Homo sapiens: one gene and its partner. The main gene of each other region encodes a partner of the protein of the gene in region 2 in a complex. Each region holds a gene or a part of one and is shown on either strand. Other genes may lie near its edges.

Region 1 (3,816 bases), about 39 Mb from region 2:
GGTGGCTCACGCCTGTAATCCCAGCGCTTTGCGAAGCCAAGGCAGGCCGTCACTTGAGGCCAGGAGTTTAAGACATAACGGGTCATCTTCACAGATAACTTAGGTGGCCTTTCCTTCCCACATGCACACCCTCCTCTGTTGTTTCAGTTCTTTGTCTGCTTTTGTTTCAAAGGTTGCTAAATTTCCCACTTATTTTGTTTGTTGAATATCAACCATATTATAAACTCTCTTGGCCCCCAAATTTATCTTTTTTTTTTTTTGAGACGGAGTTTCGCTCGTCACCCTGGCTGGAGTGCAATGGCGCGACGTCAGTTCACGGCAACCTCCGCCTCCCAGGTTCAAGCTATTCCCCTGCCTCAGCCTCCCGAGTAGCTGGGACTACAGGCCTACGCCAACACACCCACCTAATTTTGTATTTTTAGTAGAGACGGGGTTTCTCCATGTTGGTCAGGCTGGTCTTGAACTCCTGACCTCATGTGATCCGCCAGCCTCAGCCTCCCAAATTGCTGGGATTACAGACGTGAGCCACCCTGCCCGACCCAAAATTTATCTTTCAACATTCTGTTCCTAATCTAATAAATGTAAGCTTCAACTATGGTCCCTAGACAATTATCCTACAAACCTTCGTTTCCAGGTGTATTATCTCCTAAACTTACAAATGACTCCTAAATCTGGCCATTCTGACCTTTCCAACTCATTAGGACAAGTTAGAAACTATTACTTTTTCTTACATCCAGCGTTACCTATCTTAGCGCCATCACATTCCCAGTTACTTGGGCTGATGACTGCAAACACATGTAAGGTGTACTTTATATACGTGGGTCTTTATATGCTTTCTCACTGAATCCTCACAGCAAGCCTACACGATGGCTAAAAAGAAATGATCCCATAGCTGGGGGAGATTAAGCCAAATACTTTCCAGGACACCAGGCCTTTAACATCTGCCCCAACCTAGCTTTCTAATCTCACCTCTTCTGTAAACATACTACTATTCTCCAACCCAAAAGAACTACTATACTCAATATACACTCGGGCAAGATCTCTAAACCTCTGTCCTGACTTTTCCTTCCAGATTTTTCTATTTCAACTCGATTTCTCTTAATCTTAACTCTAAAAAGCAAACATTTTCCTCCAATTTTATAAGTGAATCTTTGGCACAGAGGTTACAGGTCACTAAGACATGAAGTAACGGAAGCAGAGAATGAAACTCTGGTCTTCCTGATTTCCAACGTGTGCCACACACTTCCACAAAAAAAACAAATAATTGTTTCTTGATTTGCCTATGTTTCACTGCACATGCGGAGACGACATCAACGTAACTTTTCCGCAACTATTTCAAACACGACACGTAAGTCGGTTCCCACATCCATCCCAGTACAATGGGCCCCGCCCCAATTTAGACTCGGAGAGTTCACCCAATTCGTCTCAACAGTTGTGCCAAGTGAAGTTTATTTAATAGTTCTTTAAATAAGAATAACAAAGCTGAAAGATACTGTGCATTCTACCAGTTCCAATAAGCAATAAGCGACAGCCCTCAAGCGTCAGATCCCTAGTGAAGACTGCATGCAATCCTCGGCATTTTGAACTGCTTTCGGCTCCAATATGAATGATGCACAGTGCAGGATGAAAAACTAAGGGAGATTAAGATGCAAAATGGGGCAAGTCCAAAGGCCTCCATACTCCGGGTTGGCGATCATCGGCAGAAAAACAGAAATAAGGATCCCTCCACTGGGCTGCTTCTATAGGGAGGACAAGAGAGGATCACCCGAAGAAATGGGAAATGAGCCAAACCCGCTCAAGCCCACGATGAGAGCGCAGAGCACAACCCCGCGGCGCCGCGGGTCAGGCCATGAGAGTGATACCTTTGGCGGCGGAAATGTTGCTGAAGCGGATCTGGGCTGGCTTGTCGCGGTCCTGATAGGCGCCTTTCCCGCGGCCGCCGGCAGCCCCGGCAGTCGCCCCGCTCCGGGGTGCCACATTCTCGGGCATGGCAAACTCCGCTGTGTCTGGGTTGGCTCGGGAAGGACGGATGGACCCGGATTCTGGCCGGCCGCAGTGTAATAACGGTAAGCCCTCACTGCCTTCACGAACCTTCCAGAAAGCGGCGCCGGCGTCGGGAGGAGGCGGAGGCGGAGAAGGGGGCCTTCCTTGCCGCGCGGCGCTGGCGTGACGTAGGAGGCTGTCCGCTGCGCGCCGGGCGAGGAGGATGCGTGCGGTGGGCTCCGGGCTGGCGAGATTGTACGCCCGGGGCGCTGTGGGTGAAGAGCGCCGGGGGAACCTTTACGCGAGGCAGCAATGACAACGCGCGATTTTAAAGGCGAGTGGTGAGGACATCCGCATTTCCTCACTCCACCTTGCACGGCTATGAGGTCCCCTCCTTTTTTTTTTTTTTTTTTTCTTTTTTTGGATACAGTCTCACTCTGTTGCCCAGGCTGGAGTGCAGTGGCGCAAAATCTCGGCTCACTGCAGCCTCCGCCTCCCAGGTTCAAGCGATCCTCCTCAGCCTCCCGAGTAGCTGGGATTACAGGCGTCCGCCACCATGCCCAGCTAATTTTTGTATTTTTAGTAGAGACAGGGTTTCACCATGTTGGCCAGGCCGGTCTCGAACTCCCGACCTCAGGTGATCCACCCGCCTCGGGCTCCCAAAGTGTTGGGATTACAGGCGTCAGCCACGAAGCCCGGCCTTTTTTTTTTTTTTTTTTTTTTTTGACAGAGTCTCGCTCTGTCGTCCAGGCGGGAGTGCAGTGGGGCGATCTTGGCTCACTGCAGCCTCGACCTCCGGGGCCCAAGCGATCCTCCCGCCACAGCCTCCCAACTAGCCAGGACGACAGGTGCCCGCCACCATGCCTAGCGAATTTTTGTATTCGAAACATAGCGAGACTGGGTTTCGCTGTGTTGCCCAGGCTGGTCTGACCTCCCCGGCTCAAAGCGGTCCACCCTCCTCAGCGTTTCAAAGTACTGGGATTACAGGCGTGAGCCACCGCGCCCACCCGGAGGTGCCCTCCTTTAACTCCGGCTGGATCTATCCGCGAGGTGGGGTGGGCGCCGGAATAACTCTCTAAGGGATATGACTGAGTCTGTTTTTGCCCGGCCACATAGACCTGCATTTTATGCAGTTTTGTTCATTTTGAAAGGGAGTCAGAAAAGGGAGATTTGGAATGAGGCGAGGTTAGTTATCTCGTATTGGTTGATACTGGGTGGTGGAGGTTTGACAGACTGCCAAATCAGGTCTGTCTAGTTACCACCGCCCGCTTGTTCTACACTAGTGTCTCCTGCATGACGTAGCCACTGACTCTTAGGGAACGTAAACATTATAATAAAGATCATTTATTTCCGTTATCTGCTAAGCACAGTGCTAAACCTTTACACGTTTTATATCTCGTTTAGTCCTCACAATAATCCTTTACTTAAAAGGTGAGAGAACTGGAGCCCAAAGAAGGAACTGAAGCCCAGGGTAAACGAGTCAGTAGATAGAAGCAGTATTCCAATACAAAGCAAGGACCAGAAGCCATGAGCTAAACTGCTGGTCTCCTATGACCACTATATTTCAGTAGGGAAGTTTATGAAATGAGGTTTGTTGAATGTTCGCTCACAATTATTAAGCACCTGCAAAGTGACAGTTGCGTGTGGTAGGTTCAGAAACAAATGTTCAAAGGTACTTAATCTTGTAATTATGAGGTGGTGGTGGTGTTGTTTGTTTGTTTGTTTTTGTTTGTTTTTGAGACGGAGTTTCACTCTTGTTGCCCAGGCTGGAGCAGTGGCACCATCTCGGCTCACCGCAACCTCCGCCTCCCGGGTTCAAGCGATTCTCCTGCC
Region 2 (3,600 bases):
TGGATTGGCTTTGGTTAGAATGCCTCTGACCGGATCATGTGGGGAAGAGCAACTGTAGAATAGCTGAGTCCTGGAAAACAGGCCTCAGGGAACAGCAAAGGCTGGGGATGAGGAAAGGACAAAACACCACCTGCTCTGTTGCTGTGCAGGACTGAGCAAGAAGCACAGGATCAAACTCAAAGTTAGTTCCAGTCCTGATTTTGGTGGTAAGACCCAAGGAAAATTCATTAACAAACATTGTGCTGCCAGATACATTAATAAATCCCTAAAAGGGCCTGTAATTCAGTTGAAATGAGTGAGAAAAATCTTAAGGATCCTTATAAATTAAATAAAAACTCCTTGCTCTCAAGCAATCATTTGATTCACTCTATATCAACGACTGTGCACTTTAGCATCACCTGAGGATCTTTAAGAAAGTATCTGTGCTAGGCCTCATTTCCAAGGATTTAATTTGTCTGGGGATGGAGCCCCAGGACATTCCTAGTTTTTGAGGGCTTCCAGGTGATTCTAATGCATAGCCACGGTTGGAAGCCCTGCGCCTATCTCACAGGTGTGTGGGTCTCTACTCTCTGTGTCCGCTTAGTTGCCAGGAGGCAGCAAGTTAGCCCACGTGTGCAAGATGCTTCCTTCCATACCAGGTAGGAATATTGCTCTCTTAAACTTGGAGTGTGCCTGGGCAGAAGCTCTGGAGCCCAATACCTGCATTTTACAAGTCAGATTGCTGCTTTTTGCTCAGTGCCTGTGTGCCTGCATACATGGGTCTCCTGATACTCAGGCACGGCAGATGACTTTCACCTTTGTTTTAGTGTTTTGCTCACTGCTGCATCTGCAGAGCCTAGAATGGTGCCTGGTACACAGCAGGCTCTCAATGTCTTATTAATGAGTTGCCTTTTCCAAGGCTGAAGTGATCGTGGGTGAATTCCAGAAGACCCTGCATCATTTTTATTTATTTATTTATTTAAGACGGAGTCTCGCTCTGTAACCCAGGCTGGAGTGCAGTGGAGAGATCTCAGCTCACTGCAAGCTCCGCCTCCCCCGTTCAAGCAATTCTTCTGCCTCAGCCTCCAGAGTAGCTGGGATTACAGGCAACCACCACTACGCCCGGCTAATTTTTTTGTATTTTTAGTAGAGACGGGGTTTCACCATGTTGGCCAGGCTGATCTCGAACTCCTGACCTCAAGTGATCCGCCCGCCTCGGCCTGGGATCACAGGCGTGTGCCACCGCGCCCGGCCTAGAGGCAATTTTCTATTTCTGACTTGTTAGGCTAGTCAGAGCGAGACGTCTTTACAGGTTTGGGCCGGCAGCTGGAAAAGGCACACGGCCCCGGGCTCCTCCTCCACCCAGCCCCACCCCTCCTCCGCTGAAGACCAGCCCTAATAAGGCAGCCACCAGAATTAGAACCAGGTCAAGTGCACTCCGAGCAGGACAGTAGGCAGATCCTATCTGGCGCATGCGAACGCTTCTGTGCCAGTTCCTTGAAGAGCAGGCGCAGACTCAAGGCTGTTGCTTCCGCCCTTACTCCCCGCCGCTCGTCCCTGGGCGGGGCGAAGGCTGGGCTGGGGGAAGAGGCGTGGCGGCGCTGTGCGCGTGCACAAAAGAGAGCTGAGGGGCGGGGGCGCTGCGGCACAGCTGGTTTGAGCAACTGAACTGGAAACAAGATGCAGGTGAGCTAGGACGGGTCTCGGGTCTGGGGGCTGCGGCCCGTTCCTTTGTCTCGTTAGGCCCGGGCGGGCAGTGGACGCCCGCCCTGGGGGAAGCTCCGGCGCCGCAGGCACGAGGGAGGCCCGGCGCGTCCAGGCCCTGCGCAGGCGCAGTGCGGGAGGCGGGCGTGGTCCCACCAGGACCCACGGCCTGGGCGTCCCCGCCTCGGTGTGCCGGGTCCCCCAAACCTCGTCCTCCGGGACTATGTCTTCTCGCGGTCTCTACCCACCCGGGCCTGTGAAGGTCTTGCCGGATCCCGCCTAACAAAAGTTACCTCCTCTCCTGAACTCCCCTAAGGCACACCTGGGCAGAGGTGTTAGGAAGCGGAGGGTCCGGCCTGGGGTCTTCCGCACGTAAAGCAGCGCCACAGCCGGTGTTCCTGGCTCCACTGAGAGCCAGGTGAGGGCTTAGTTACACCCTCTTCCCCCGAGCCCTGGGATCCGCTTGGGGCGTGTTCCCTATCTGACCGCTCGGGTTCCAGAGCTCCCCGCGAGGGTCCCTCTGTTTCGTCCTTTTTTTTTTTTTTATTAAAATAGGTAAAATAAATTATTTTTCTGTAGCTGCAATTTACTAGCGGAATTTGGTTAAAGCCTAAGGAGAATGAATGAAAACACCATGGAAATGGGCACTATTGTGGGTGAAAACCTATGCCAACTAAATTTTGTCACTGTCCAAAGATCCCGCAGTGGTCAGAAATTCTAATCTCTGCTTAGTGGCAGATGGAGAGGAGAGGGTGCGGGTTTTGCTGGGGAGGGAGGCATTAGGGGCTGGAGGGGAGGGCGTGTCTGCCAGGAGCCAGACACTGTTTTTTTTTTTTTTGAGACCGGGTCTTGCTCTGTTGCCCAGGCTGGAGTGCAGTGGCTCTGTCACAGCTCACTGCAACCTCGACCTCCCGGGGCTAAGCCATCCTCCCTTGTCAGCCTCCGGAGTAGCTGGGACCACAGGCGTGCACCCACCACTCTGGGCTAATTTTTTGTGCAGATGGGGTCTCCCTATGTTGCCCAGCCTCAGCCTCCCAAAGTGTTGGGATTACAGGATGAGCCACCGCACCTGGCCTAGACACTCTTAAATGGTGAAGTGGTAGCTTGAGGGCTGCCCTGGCCTCCTTTGCATTCCCTGTCCTTCAGGTCCCTTGAGGCCTTCCCTGACCACCCTGTAGAAAGGATTCTGCTCTTTTTGTTTGTTTGTTTGTTTGTTTCTTTTTGAGACAGAGTCTTGCTCTGTCGCCCAGGCTGGAGTGCAGTGGCGCGACCTCGGCTCACTGCAAGCTCCGCCTCTCCAGTTCACGCCATTCTCCTGCCTCAGCCTCCTGAGTAGCTGGGACTACAGGCGCCCGTCACCACTCCCGGGTAATTTTTTGTATTTTTAGTAGAGACAAGGTTTCACCATGTTAGCCAGAATTGTCTCGATCTCCTGACCTGGTGATCTGCCCGCCTAGGCCTTCCAAAGTGCTGGGATTATCGGCATGAGCCACCGCGCCCGGCCTCATTTTTCTTTTGATGTATCTCAGAACTGTTACACAGGGTTGGGGTTGGAGACCGATTATCCCGGTGCCCTTTTCACAGTGCTCCTGATTTCATATTCCAAAGCAAGCCTGAGCTCCATTAGCAGTGTTCTTGCCACACCATGCAAACCGGTGCTTGGGCAGCTGGGTTCTAGATCTAAGAGCCACTTTTACATCAGTCTTTGTGACAATGATCCTTTGTGATTTTGATGCTGGCTGATTTGGCCAGCCGTTCTAGCATGGCAGTGCCTCTAAATGCCGTGCCTCTCCTAGGCTTGTGAGGATTCAGGGACAAGGTACAAGAAAAAGGGCTTAGAGTGCCCTGTATTTTATGAGCTACTCTGAGACGTCTCAGCTTTTCCTCTCAGGTTTGGCCATTAGAGAATTCTGTCAG

The links. Proteins that work in one complex are often made in the same cells at the same time.
Region 1: the proteins of PDCL3 (region 2) and CCT4 are in contact, whole or in part, in a cryo-EM structure (PDB 8I9Q), measured with the Homo sapiens proteins. Residues at the interface, in NP_076970.1 of Homo sapiens: Ala70, Ile71, Tyr74, Arg75, Arg78, Leu79, Trp82, Lys86; in NP_006421.2 of Homo sapiens: Val266, Gln271, Met272, Leu276, Glu279, Arg280, Leu312, His315.

Annotation. Positions count from the first base shown.
Region 1 is NC_000002.12:61,886,519-61,890,334, forward strand, and holds the start of CCT4 (T-complex protein 1 subunit delta), read right to left. Parts: upstream 2,139-3,816; 5' UTR 1,990-2,138; coding exon 1,863-1,989; intron 1-1,862. UniProt on the Homo sapiens protein: Component of the chaperonin-containing T-complex (TRiC), a molecular chaperone complex that assists the folding of actin, tubulin and other proteins upon ATP hydrolysis.
Region 2 is NC_000002.12:100,561,409-100,565,008, forward strand, and holds the start of PDCL3 (phosducin-like protein 3), read left to right. Parts: upstream 1-1,584; 5' UTR 1,585-1,659; coding exon 1,660-1,665; intron 1,666-1,896; exon of another isoform or gene 1,897-2,101; intron 2,102-3,600. UniProt on the Homo sapiens protein: Acts as a chaperone for the angiogenic VEGF receptor KDR/VEGFR2, increasing its abundance by inhibiting its ubiquitination and degradation.